2 linked regions of the Homo sapiens genome follow. The protein of the gene in region 1 purifies or fractionates together with the protein of each later gene. This does not show direct contact. Each region holds a gene or a part of one and is shown on either strand. Other genes may lie near its edges.

Region 1 (6,699 bases):
AGAGGCAGAGTGTGGGCCGGGGCTGGAGCTCAGCCTGAGGCAGCAGTGGCAGGGCTAGAGGGCTATTGGCAGCTGGGCTGGACAGGATCTGGTGACAATGGGATGCAGGAGGGTCAGGGAGAGGAAGCACTGAGGCTGACTCCCAGTCCCGGCTGGGACAGCTGGATGGCAGGGCTGCCGGGCACCCACAGGGAGCAGAGCGTCCAGGGAGGGAGAGCACGCATCCCGCCCAAACGCCCAGCCTCAGCCCATTCAGGCCAGTGGCACCTTGGGCCAGGGGAGAGTCCAGACTGGGGAGCTGGGGAGGCCAAGGCTCACACATCCAGGTTCGGGCCAGCCCAGTCCTGCTGGGACAGCTGGCCACCGCTGGGACTGGAGGCAAGGCTGCCCTGGGCAAGGACAGTGAGCTGTTCTGAGTCATTGCTGGGGGCTCTTGCTGGCTTCACCTGCTGGAGCCCAAACCCAGGGGGTCTGAGTGACGACCGAACTCCAGGAAAGGCAAGGCCCCAACACGGAGCCTCACACACGGGCTCGAGAACACAGACGGGCTGCAGCAACTTCCCAGGATGGTTTATTCCAAAGCTGTGGACGGTGAACATTAAGACGAAAGAGGTGACTCGCGTGGAACCTGAAACACGGACGCCTTTCTTCCAAGAAGGGCTGTGGCGATCAGGCCACTCAAGGCAGCCAGCCCCTCAGCAGGGCACGATGGCTAATGCTGCCTGGACCGCAGGGACTTTTTGTTCGATTTCAAGACACCAGACTCCCTCTCCTTCTCAGGGTCGAAGACTTCTGTAGACAGAAAAGGCAGGAAAGACACAGTGAATGGAGGGGCTGGCAGCACAGGGGCACCAGCTGGAGCCAGCAGCTACGTCTCCTGTGCCAAGGACTGTCCTAGGTCTACACCATCCTTCACTGCTAACCCTCCCCAGCCCGTGAGGAAGGCAGAGTTAGCCCCAGTTCAGAGAGGAACAAACTGAGGGAGCTGTGGACATAGCTTTCACGTCCCCCTCCTGAGAGGGCTGCCAGAGAGAGAGCCTTGTCTAGACAAAATGCTCATACACGTTGGAATTTCAGCTGGGTTCTAGAAAGTCCTCTGGAGCGGTGCACGTAGCTCAGCCTTTACTTCCTGCAGTGGCTTCTTCTAGGATTCAAGCTGCTAACACGGACCCCCACACACCCTGGAGCCCTTCAGGGCCCTGTCTCCAAGGGCTTCCCTGGCACCAGGCCCCACGTCCTGCTGGCCCAGCCCCTCCCATGAGCTCCTCAGGGCCCACGCACTTGGGATCTCGTGGGGCCAGTAGTCGTTGCAGTGGGGGCAGCGCGGTTCAGCATTCGACTGGAAGTACTTGGCCACGCAGGGTAAGTGCATCCTGATCCCACAGGTTTCGCAGCTTTGACCCTGAAACAGGAAAGGCCAATGACGGCGGAGCTGGTGCACACCTCCATGTTCTGCAAACCTCCGGGGAAGCCACAAGGGAAATGGGCAGCAGGTGGCATCGTGTTATCTTCTGGGCCCCAGATTAATATTGAAAATAATCCCAAACGCCTTAGTGCAGTGGAGTCTTTTGTTTGCTTGCTGCTTGTTGCGGTGGGTTTTACTAAACAATTCTGAACACATGAACGCAGTGACAGAAGCCGAGGGCTCCCAAACTCCTGCACTCAGATCCTGCAGGTGGCGTGTGGACAGCCACAGCTTTTCAGAAGCTTATTTGCTAATGTGAATCAAAAGCTTTCAAAAAAAAAGTGCACTTTGTCCCAGAAACTCCGCCCAAGGAAATAATCACCAGGTGCCCAAGGATACAGGTGTACGAGGCCCGTAAGAGCAATTGCAATTACAAACAGCTACAGCTGCAAAACGATAGAAACTGAAAGACACATCAATGTCCACGCTGGTTCAGCGGTTGCAAAGCCCTGCAAACCAGTGTTAAGACCACTCCAGAAAGCAGCAATCGACAAGAGACACTCACTACAAAACTACCAAGATGATGCAGGTTGCACAGAACACTCAGCCTTCCTGAGAAAAATAAAGTAAGCGAGGGCCCTTGGACCCCAACAGCAGAACCAGGGAGGAGGGCGGCAGTGCGTCCCTGCGGGGCACAGCAGGGAGGCGTCCTGACACGTCCTGGGAGATGGCCTCCGCCAGCTCTTGTGGGAGGATGCGCCAGCAGTGCAGGAGGGCTGGGCCCAGAGCCAGGATTCCGGGAAGTACCTGTACAGAGCCCCGGGAGCCGAGGGCCCAGTGATGAGCTCCCGTGCCCTGCCCTGCGGGTACCTGGATGAGGAGGCTGTGACAGATATTGCAGATCTTCACCGCGTCGGGGTACGTCTCCCGGATGTATTGCTCCATCTCCAGGATGGCCCGGCCGTGCAGGGTGAACTCCCCTTCCTTCTGCAGGGACACACAGGAGGTGGCCACCCTCAGCCAGGCCCTCTCCCCATTCACCACCTCTCTTCCCTCTGTGATCCCACAGCCCAGTGCTCAGGAAGACACAAGGGTCTACGCAGCTTTTCACCAACCCCAGCCAACGGGCATCAGCCACATCCCCCTGGCAGAGCCTCGGCAAGGGAAACTGAGGCAAAGACCCTAAAGACATGGAGGCGTGGCTCCCTGACACCCGCCTTTTCTCAGCATCTGCTGTGCCTTCAGACGTGACTTCTCTGTCTGCACGGCAGCCTCGAGGGAGGCAGTCACAGCCCTCCTGCAGATGAGGACGCTGAGGCCCACAAGGGGGTCAGTCTCCCCAGGGTGCAAACCCAAACACCCACTGCTGCCATCCGCCACCCATCCCACTCCCAAAAAGCAGCATCCCTGGTGCCTCCCAGCACTTCTGCCTCCCAGCACTTCTGCCTCCAACTGCAGTAGGGACCCTCAGAGATCACTTCCAGCCACATCACTTTACAGATGGAGCTGGAAGGAGTCTGGAGAGGGCAGACAGGCCCCATCACACTGTGGGCAGTGGAGCCTCCAGTGGAAGCCAGGCCTCCTGGTTCCCATGCCAGGGTGCGGTCCACCCATCATGCATCCTGAAATCCCTGGGAGAGCCCGGAAGCACAAGAACAATGCAGCTCCCCAGGCCGACCCTACTGCCAGGTCACAGGAGAAAGGCAGCACTGAGGGAGACCCAAGGCAGGCAAATGACACGGGACCCAGGACATGGACCCATGCAGGCTGATTCCAGTTTCTCCACAGTCAGCTCATGCATCGGATATGAACCACACCAGGAGATGACGTCACTGACGCCTGCAAGTCACCCGAGTGCTCAACTGCCTTTTCTGTTATTTTCTAATTTTTAATTTTTACAAGCAAGAGCTGTCACTCCCGTTTCTTTTCTTTTCTTTTTTTTTTTTTTTTTTTGAGATGGAGTTTTGCTCTTGTTGCCCAGGGTGGAATGCAATGGCACAATCTTGGCTCAATGCAACTTCCGCATCCCGGGTTCAAGCAATTCTCCTGCCTCAGCCTCCTGAGTAGCTGGGATTACAGGCATGCGCCACCACGCCTGGCTAATTTTGTATTTTTAGTAGAGACAGGGTTTCACCATGTTAGCCAGGCTGGTCTTGAACTCCCGACCTCAGGTGATCCGCCCACCTCGGCCTTCCAAAGTGCTGGGATTGCAGGCGTGAGTCACCGCACCCAGCCCACTCCCGTTTCTGACAGGTAGAGCCCCCCACCCCATTCCCACCTTCATCCCCACAGTGCAATGTGGAGGGGTGTGCTTGCGTAATCTGGGCTCACAGTGCGTTCGCTCTGGAACACCAGTAGAGGAGCTGGGTGAGCACAGGAAGGAAGGCAGGGCAGAAGCGTGGGGTTGGGGCATGGACAGCCGCTGCGGGAACAGTGGAGGGAGGCCGGGGCACCAGGTGCTTGTGCCCTGCACCGCAGCTGTTGCTGGTGCACAGGGGCTTTGTGTCATCCAAGTGCTGTGGGCAATGGGAGGATGTGACCAGCCCCCAGGCTGTCCTCGGTCCTCAGTCCTATGGCTGTTACCTTCCCCCAAAGCTCCCAAATCCATCATGGCACCCCACCTCCCTGGCCACCGCCCTCTTCCAGCCTCCCCTCCAGATCCATCACGGCACCCCACCTCCTTGGCCCCCACCCTCTTCCACCCTCCCCTCCAGATCCATCACAGCACCCCACATCCCCAGCCACCACCCTCTTCCACCCTCCCCTCCAGATCCATCATGGTACCCCACCTCTCCAGCCCCCACCCTCTTCCACCCTCCCCTCCAGATCCATCACAGCACCCCACATCCCCAGCCACCACCCTCTTCCACCCTCCCCTCCAGATCCATCATGGTACTCCACCTCTCCAGCCCTCACCCTCTTCCACCCTCCCCTCCAGATCCATCATGGCACCCCACACCCCCAACCACCGCCCTCTTCCGCCCTCCCCTCCAGATGCATCATGGTACCCCACATCCCCGGCCACCGCCCTCTTCCACCCTCCCCTACAGATCCATCATGGCAACCCACCTCCCCGGCCTCCACCCTCTTCCACCCTCCCCTGCTCCTGCTGCTCTCTGAGCCCACTCTCCTCCAGCAACGCACTCGCTACCGAACAAGCCTGGCCCTGTCACTCCCAACTCACCCCCACCCCAGGGCTTCCCACCACCCTTAGGTCCAAGAGCCAAGCCCCTAATACGCGTATCTCCCGGGCTGCCCTCCGTCTGCTCGCCTCGCAATCTTTGTGCTCAGATGGCCCTGGCCTTAGCTTCTTGAGTGCACCTGCTGGCCACAGGGCCACTGCCGGGCTGATGATCCTCCCACCCCAGGCTCCAGGCAACTCCCACACAGCCTTCAGCTCAAGTGTCACTTCCTCAGCAGCTGAGGGCCGGTTCCTCTGGGACAGCTGTCATAAAGCCATGTTTCCTTTCCATCTGTACCAGGACTGCAGTGAGATGACCGTCTCACTGATCTCGGGCTCCCCCTCCAGACCATGGCCCCATGGGAGCGGCCACCAGCTCTGGCTGTGCTCACTCCTGTGTCCGCAGCACCTGCTGTGGGGCCCAGCACTTGGCAGGCCTGTGATAAACACCCACGGGAAGATGAAGTAGACCTTGCACTGATCCCAAAGGAATGCCTGACACTAAGCAAGTTCAAGCTCAGACTGAGGCAGGAGCTGCATTTATTTTTTATTTATTTATTTGAGACAGAGTTTCGCTCTTGTTGCCCAGGCTAGATCATGCAATGGCACGATCTCAGCTCACTGCAACCTCTGCTTCCAGGGTTCAAGCGATTCTTCTGCCTCAGCTTCCCGAGTACCTGGGATTACAGATGCCCGCCACCACACCCAGCTAACTTTTTTATATTTTTAGTAGAGACAGGGTTTCACCATATCGGCCAGGCTGGTCTCAAACTCCTGACTTCAAGTGATCTACCCGCCTTGGCCTCCCAAAATGCTGGAATTACAGGTTTGAGCCACTGCACCCAGCCAAGCTGCATTTACTGAACACCTGCTATGTGCCTGAAACTGCACCCAAGGCTCACCATTCATGACCCACTCAGTCCTCTGAGGGCCCATCAGGGGAGGGGCAGGAGGGATGCCCTAGCCCTCAAAGACGACGACAGCCCAGGTGATCTCCCAGGCGCCTCGCCACAACACTTGGAAGTCAGGACCTCGTGTAGGGAGCAGTCCTGGGGTGTATGGAGGTGCGCCGATCAGCAGACGCCCAGCTCCCATGAGCCGCGCTTGCTCTCAGAGGCCTCCCCGCTGACCCCAACCACCTACCACCCCTGGGCCTTCTCCTGGACGGACAGCTGCCTCAGCACCTCCATGCCGGGCCAGTCTCACACAGGACTGGCTGTCCAGGAGTGACGTGTCCTTGGGGTGATATACCCACCTGGAAGGGCCTTGTCAGTGGGCCCCTGGCTATTTCTGTGGGAAGCCCTGTGTCTGAGAGGCCAAGGATCAGACACTGACATGTGGTCTCTCTGATCGAGGTGCTGCCCTAGGAAGACCTGTCCTGGGTAAGTGAGCACCCGCCCCGGTTCTCAGTGATTCCTCCAGAGTGCCGCAGACCTCAAGGCAACCCTTACCAGGCCATGTAGGTCAGAGAGCACTGGACCCTCACAGAAAACACCTGGAGCTGGCAATGTCCCCATCCTGCAGATGAGGAAACAGTCTCCGCAACGAGAAGCTGCTCACCACAGGCAGCGGAGGAACCTGGAGGAGTCTCACCACACAGCCCCTGCCACATTAGCTTCGTTCCTTCGTCCTCCTGAGGGCCCCAGCAGGCCAGGCAGTCAACAAGAAGCCTCTCTAGGGCTACTGCCCAGCGCCAGTGCTGAGGGCCCCCTGCTACTTCTGCAGCGCTCCTGCAGGTGGCAGCTCCCGGATCCTCTGTCCACCCTCCCTCGAGCTCAGAGGCGCCCTGCAGAAGGTGGTGCCAGCACTGCCACCGAACTGAGAAAGGCACAGAGTACAAGCGCCTGCAGCCACAGCTCACCGCCACAGACTCCAGGGCGGGGCCTCTCCTATCCACCACCGCCCTCTCCAGACACCAAGGGCAGACAAAGGGCAAGTCAAACCATAAAGCTGGGGGCACGCCCTGCAAGCCATGCACAATGGTGGCAGCATGTGCTAGGCATGGTGCTCTTGGGTGCAAAGCAGGGTGCAAAGTGTTGTGTACTGGGATGTTGGGGCACTCGGCTCTAGGGTCTGGGATAACAGGTGACTTCAGTGGGTTTCTTTATGCATC
Region 2 (7,420 bases), on another chromosome or scaffold:
AAAAAGCAGTTTTAATAGCACACACACACACACATTCATAGGACTTTAACAAGATGTAGTATAAAATCTTTAAAAAAAAAAAAAAGGAAAGAAAAAAATCTGTATTTACTTCCTAAGAGCTGGTGGATTAACTGGCTGACAGGACTGCCCAGGAAAAACAAATGCACAGATAATGAGGTGCGCCGACACTGTTCATGAGTAAGGAATAACCATGGATCATGCTAACTGCTCTACGTGCCCCGCCGCCTGGACCCTACTGTTGCCTCCTTAGCGACAAACCACCACAGTCATCCCCTAATTCTCCAACTCAGTAGCTTGTTTAATGGGCTACCTCTTAAAATTTTCATTTTTAATTTAAAAATTACTCTTGGCTTAAAGACGCCACACATTATTACTGGCCAGTCCCCACCAATTATATTTGTTTTGATAAAAATAAAAATGCAAATACTCCAACTAAGCCTGGATGATAACACGCCATTTTGTATCTTTTACATTTGAGGAGATTTTTGTGAAGCTGAAAGCAAGCTACTATTTGCGCTTGAAAGCAGAAACAAAATGCAAACCTTCCAAAAGGTGACAAAGGCACCACTGCCATCAGGAGATAGAAAATGTACAAATGCTGTTACTTTACGGCTACATCAATGCATTTTGTGCATGGAGAGCCTCTTAATGTGATAAAACTAGTAGAATTATATTTTCAGTAACAAGAAAAGCAGTTAGAAAAGGCAAACAGTTACACACAAAAGCATAAACACTTACAAGTACCTTAATGTGCAGCTTGCAAGAAGGGTAATAAGTTTGCCATACATATCCATAAAATTAGACAAGGTGATTTTTGGCACAGTAATATTGCCAAACACACCACCACTCAGTGCAAGCTTCGTTTGCCAAGTCCCCAAAGTGGCCTGACATTCTCTGTGCAATGAACATTTCTCCCTCTCTACCATCCCATTCACCGGGCAATAGCAGCAGGAGGGAGACAAAGCATGGGGACTCAAGGGAGAAGTAAAATACTTGATTTGGAAGAAAAACCATGGGCTACTTGTGCTAAAAGAGAGTCACAAAGTTTTCATGAGAACCCAAATGCAAATACTGACTGGACTATGACCTGGAGTCTGAAGACCTCTACCAGAGTCATAAATACAAGGGCCTAAACTGAGGTCTGGCCATTTATTTTAGAGGGACCATGAAGTATTTTTTTTCTAAAGGAGAAATATAATTAAAAATAGAGATTTTTTTCTTATTGGAACTGTTAAATAAAAATGTATCAAAGTGGTTTTAAATTTGATGGACAGTTATCTGTTGAAACTGCAATACAAAAGGGTCATTAAAAAAAAACCTGAATAACCCACTTGTCCCCCCCATCAATGTACACAATTAGAAAATATTTACACACTGTAAATTACAAGCAATATAAGCAGTATTTTATACTTTGAGATTTTGTACACTTTACACAATGCAAAATGAGAAAAATATGAACACGTATAAAATTACACACAAATAATGTATCTACAAAGGATTAAATTACAGAACGAAAGCCCCCATCGTTGGGCAGATAGATGCCAGAGTTTCAAGCTTCTGTCAAATAGAACTCTTTGTATCTATCTCTTTAACCATAAGTGGCATTTTGTAACAATACCCTTGAGAGGTAGTATCAAGATAATAATATTCTTACCAGTAAACAACACAGAATAAAACTTTTGTTGGTCTGACTCTTGGAGCCTCAATCAGTTTAGGTTCTTGGAAACTGGATTTACTTAGTCTTCCCTATAAAATCTCTGACTGCCAATGCTTGATTGACATGAGCTCAAAAGTTACTGATGCTATTTTAAATGATAAATTTAGGACAAAATGCTTTTTACTCCTAAGCCTCAATTTAGAGGTAGAAAGTTATTTTATTTTCTTGCCTCTCAAACCGCAAACATCAAGTCCAGTTTCTGTTCCCCTCCATCATCTTTCCCCCCCACAACTGGAGACACTAGAGCACTCAGGAGAACAGGTCACTCAAGCCAATACTGAAAGAACAACAAAAAAAGTTGGCATTCTTTCAGGAAACAAACCCTCCTAAAAGGGACATCTCGTCAACAAAATAATTTTCTAGTTGGCTAGTAAGAGTTTGTTACTACCCCTGGGCTAAAAACAACGTGTGCACTTCCACTAACCCTCTACCATTTAAACCAAAGGATGGCTCTCCAGTGTTTAAGAATTTACAGCAGCTGTGGTTTTGAAGTGCAACAACTTCAAGATACAAGCGCACACACACACACACACACACACACACATACACAGACACAGTGTCCCAAAGAATTCAGGTGTCTGCCAAAATTATATACTCATGGAAACAAGGTTGTTGGAAACTTGTCCAGATCTTTAGGCTTTTACAATATAGACTTCTGTAATATGGTTACCAAGAGCCAGAATTCTAAGATATAGCCAAGATTCTAAGATTTAACCAGTATTTAAAATACATGCATTTAAAAGAAATCCAGAACAAACAGCATATGAATGTTCTGGCATCAAAACAGGGCCACTACTTTACAGCTTAACCTCTTCCTCTTAAGGGGATCTGACAACATGCCAAACTTTTGTTTCTCAACTGTTTGTTTAGATGTATTTTAAAAACAGATTTATAATCTTGAGTAATGAAGGAAAATGCATGGATTGAAACCTCCCTGTGGTTTATAAAAGTTACAGAAGAGATTTATGCTTTTTATTACTAAACTCAGTTTTAAGCATTCCCTTTGTGTCCGAAAATAACCAAGAGGGAAAATTAAACCCAACTGGAACTTGGTCTTGCTTTCCATGTCCAACTTCTCAAGTTAGTCCAAGCTCTTTTCTTATATATTTCCTGTGATTATCCAAGTGACAAAAATACTATCTAAAAAAGATAACTGGCTTATAATTTAACAAGAGGAGTTAACTGGGGCAGGTTAGACATATGACTATTATTCTGCTTCTACCCCTCCCCTCTTTTAATAAGACTCTGCACTTTTGAAAGGTCAGTTGCCTTAACAATTAAGCAGATCATATTTCATATCTGCTTCAGAAATGGCAATTTCTTCATTACCAGCTTCATACTAGATATTCAAGTGGCACATTTGCTGTACATTTTCTTGGCATTCATTGGATTCTGTAATAATCCTTTCTACTCCTCTATGAAAGGCTCTTATTGAATTTCTCTTGGTTCATATTTTTGCTGCTGCAACTCCTATTAAGAATCTGGTACCCAGAAGTCATGAAGCTGCCCCTAAAAAAGGGAAGGAGAAAAAAGAGGGTAAAGCAAAATTTAATCATATTATGAATTAATCCTTATAAAACTACTAATCATCAGACAATGGGCTTTGATAAGACAAGTAATAAAATCTTTATATTGACTTCTCTGAAAATTTATGGTAATCAGATTCAAATTTCACATTCAGTAGTCAAACAACAAAAAACAGTAAAAAATAAGTGCAGGATGTTTTTCTCACCACTGCACACATGGAGGGGCTTAGTTAAGCAGATTAAATAATGTTAAGCTGATTAGTATAGTTTTGCTATTAAATTATTTTCTGTTTTAATACCACATCAGTACATGACCAGCATTAAAAGAAAATCTATTAAGGTTAGAAACAAATACAAAAACAACAAAACATAAATATAAGATTTCTCAAAGACTTAAAATAGAGAGATTGCTTTATCTACTTAACATTCAGTGTTCCTATTATTTTGATATAAAATATAAGCAACTTCTAGGCCCTGGCTACTCAAAGTTTAGTCCCTGAAGCAGCAGCATTGGCATCAATCTGATAACTTGCTAGAACTACAGAATATCAGCCAGGCGCGGTGGCTCATGCCTGTAATCCCAGCACTCTGGCAGGCCGAGGCGGGCGGATCACGAGGTCAGGAGATCCAGACCATCCTGGCTAACACGGTGAAACCTGTCTCTACTAAAAAATACAAAAAAATTAGCCAGGTGTGGTGGCAGGCGCCTGTAATCCCAGCTACTGAGGAGGCTGAGGCAGGAGAATGGCGTGAACCCAGGAGGCAGAGCTTGCAGTGAGCCGAGATTGCACCACTGCACTCCAGGCTGGGTGACAGAGCAAGACTCCGTCTCAAAAAAAAAAAAAAAAAAAAAAAAAAAAAGAAGTACAGAATATCTCAGTTCTCACTCCAGACCTATGAGTCAGAATCCATATTTCACCAAGTTCCTAGTTGATTCCTATGTACATTAAAATTTGAGAAGCGTCATTTTAGACAATCCTATGCCAGTTACTCTGTAAACAAGCAGGCTGGCACACTTACTAGCAGGTGTTAAAAAAAATGTCCCTCTTAGGCAAAGACTCCTTAGATATAACATCAAAAAAAAGTGTCAAAAATATATACATAATAAATAAAAATAAAGGAAAGGCAACACACAGAATGGAAGAAAATATTTACAAATTATATCTCTAATAAGGGATTTGTATCCAGAACATACAACTCAATAATAAAAAGACAAATAACTATATTCAAAAATAGGCTTTTTGAAATGAAGTATGGGATGAAAAAAATGGGCAAAGGATCTGAATAGACATTTCTGCAAAAAAGCTATACAAATGACCAATAGGCATATGAGAAGATGTTTAACACCATTAATCATTAGGGAAATGCAAACTAAAACCACAATGAGATTCTACTTCCCTACTCCCTACTATGGCTTTAGTAAAAACAAGTGTTGGTGAGAATATGGAGAAATTAGAAACCTCAGACATTCTGGTGGGAATATAAAATGATGCAGTCACTTTGGAAAACAGTCTGGTAGTTTCTTAAAACACTTAACATAGAATTACCATATGGCCCAGCAATTTGACTTCCTTTTCAAATGTTTCATTTGAGAACACATATTCACATAAAAACTTGCATACAAATGTTCATGGAAATATTATTTGTAATAGCCAGAATGTGAAAACAATACAAATGTCTGATAAGTAGATAAATAAATGTGACATATCCATACAGTGGAAAATTATTTGGCAATAGAAGGGATGTACATGCTATAACATGGATTCACTTATTATTATATTAACTGAAAACAGCCAATTACAAAAGATTACATAGTATATCTCATTTACCGATGTCCAGAATAGGGAAATGTATAGGGACAGAAAGTAGATTAGTGTTTGCCTAGGATTTGGGAGGAGTCAGGAGGGGAACCAAGGTAGTAGAGGAAAGGGGAATGAATGACTGCTAATGGGTATGGGATTTCTTTTTGGGGTGATGAAAATGTTCTAAAATTAGACTATGGTGATGTTATTCACTCTGTCAATGTAATAAAAACCACTGTACACGTTAAGTGGGTAAAATCTATGGTATGTGAATTCTATCTCAATAGATCTGTCTTAAAAATGCTCTTAATTGAATAACCTCCATTTGATGCAATGCAATATTTTTAAATGGGCTCAACCACTTCTGGAAATAAATTAATGAATATAAAGCAAACGAAAACTAAAAAAATTACAAACCATGTATTATACTGGCGTTTTCAGTTTATCTTAAGATAACTAGAAGCAAGTGCACTGTTATACCCTATTTTATTTCAAACAGTATGAAGAGTGCCATTCAGCAAAACTATTAAGAATACATGAAATTGTATAACAAAATGACACCTGAGTAGGCCGACAGTTCTGGATTATTTCCTGCCATTTTCCATGTATCCTGGCGACCAAGTCTTTCACCTTAAAAATATCAAAAACAGGAAAAGGGATCAGATTAAAACATTCTCACCTACAATCAGCTTAACACTACACAAAATATCTGACAGCTGCAACAGGCCCACACTCAACAACTCAATTTGATTTCTGTCAACAAAGAGAAAATAAACTACTCATCTTTTGAAGGAGATTTCAAATCATAGAAATTAATAAGACTCCCTTTATCATCATAATCTAAACTATTGAATGCTTATGATTTAATTTTCCTGTTATTGAAGATCATCCCCAAAAACACATTCTCTGCCTTCAAAGGAACTTAACTTTAACTCGCTGGCTTTTGAACAACCAGATAGAGAAGCTGAAGGGTGGTCTGTGTCAACAGGGCCCAAGGCTTTGGCTGTTCTGTGCCTTCCCTTCCCAGCTTCCCTTTGAAAGGATCAAAGCCATAAAAAAAACGTTTATTTGTCCCTCTCCACATTATTAGAAGATCCAAAATTCACTGTTACTCCTCTCCATGCTTGTGCCCAAGTACTACGAATCCCCTTTAAATACCTCGTATTTTCCTACATTTGGAGGTTTAGCAAGTGTCTGTGCACAACTGAAACTGTAACACAAAACCCAAACTCTATCACTCTAGAGATTCTCAATTAGCTATTGAACATAACTGCTTGAGAAACATGTTTTCAACAAGTCAGGAATTTTATAGCAGCTTTAAATTTATAAAGTAAACTACAATCTATGCTTTTTTCTTCATCTACAGTTCAAATTTCTCCAAAACAATCACCAACTTTTCTATAATAGAGGCTTTTGGAGAGGCAGGCAACTCATCTATTTCAGCAGGACCATCCCTTGAAGCAATTTCCACAGACCACTGTGTCGCTTTCCACTTTAAGTAAGAGAAGCACTGGCAACAATCTGTGCCAAGCCCTTGTCTTTAAGAAACATAAAACTTGGGTGGTCCCCTTTTAGCATGGCTGTCAGTAGTAGCCACTACCAAGTTCTACAGGCCAGCAATTCTGGTCAATGAATGCTCAAAAGAATGTGCTTCTGAAACTAGAGTTCTACTCTTGGGGAAAGAGCTATCCCCTACATGTATTTGAAAATCAGAAATCTGATAACTTCATTAGTTGCTTATTTTTGTATTTAACTTAAATTTACTAAAATAAATACATATGTTAAATCTGAATGGGCATTGTTCAAATGACTAACCTTTGCAGCTAATTAATGTAAGATATTAAGTTACAAAGCTGAGGCTTCACATTCAATGACTATCCAAAGACAAGAGGCAAAAAGAATCAGCATTGTATTACATTATCAAAGCTAAAAGATAATCTTGGAATAAAAAAATCTTTAGAAAAAAGTATGTTTATTTTATTTTGTTTTATTTATTATTATTATTTTTTGAGACAGAGTCTTGCTCTGTCGCCCAGGCTGGAGTGCAGTGTCGAGATCTCAGCTCACTGCAAGCTCTGCCTCCTGGGTTCAAGGGATTCTCCTTCCTCAGCCTCCTGAGTAGCTGAGACTACAGGCACGCACCACCACACCTGGCTCATTTTTGTATTTAGAAAAAAGTATTTTAAAAGTGTCTGATTTTATGTTTCAGGAAAAACTGTCAAATCATTCTATTAATACTAACATTATTTTCCTACTCCATACTCATATATTTGGCTTTTCTACTGTCTTTGAGTATATAAAACCTTTAAGAAAAAAAGCTTAGCAAGCTTAGTGCTGAAATCATTTCCACCCTA

Evidence for each region.
Region 2: the proteins of NSMCE1 (region 1) and SLF2 purify together in Homo sapiens (affinity purification with mass spectrometry; 3 studies listed by BioGRID and IntAct, with this or other methods). This does not show direct contact.

Annotation. Positions count from the first base shown.
Region 1 is NC_000016.10:27,224,445-27,231,143, forward strand, and holds the end of NSMCE1 (non-structural maintenance of chromosomes element 1 homolog), read right to left. Parts: intron 2,393-6,699; coding exon 2,276-2,392; intron 1,403-2,275; coding exon 1,282-1,402; intron 793-1,281; coding exon 713-792; 3' UTR 550-712; downstream 1-549. UniProt on the Homo sapiens protein: RING-type zinc finger-containing E3 ubiquitin ligase that assembles with melanoma antigen protein (MAGE) to catalyze the direct transfer of ubiquitin from E2 ubiquitin-conjugating enzyme to a specific substrate.
Region 2 is NC_000010.11:100,957,704-100,965,123, reverse strand, and holds part of SLF2 (SMC5-SMC6 complex localization factor protein 2), read right to left. Parts: intron 5,697-7,420; coding exon 5,628-5,696; coding exon of another isoform or gene 5,553-5,627; exon of another isoform or gene 5,536-5,552; intron 3,248-5,535; coding exon 3,212-3,247; 3' UTR 1-3,211. UniProt on the Homo sapiens protein: Plays a role in the DNA damage response (DDR) pathway by regulating postreplication repair of UV-damaged DNA and genomic stability maintenance.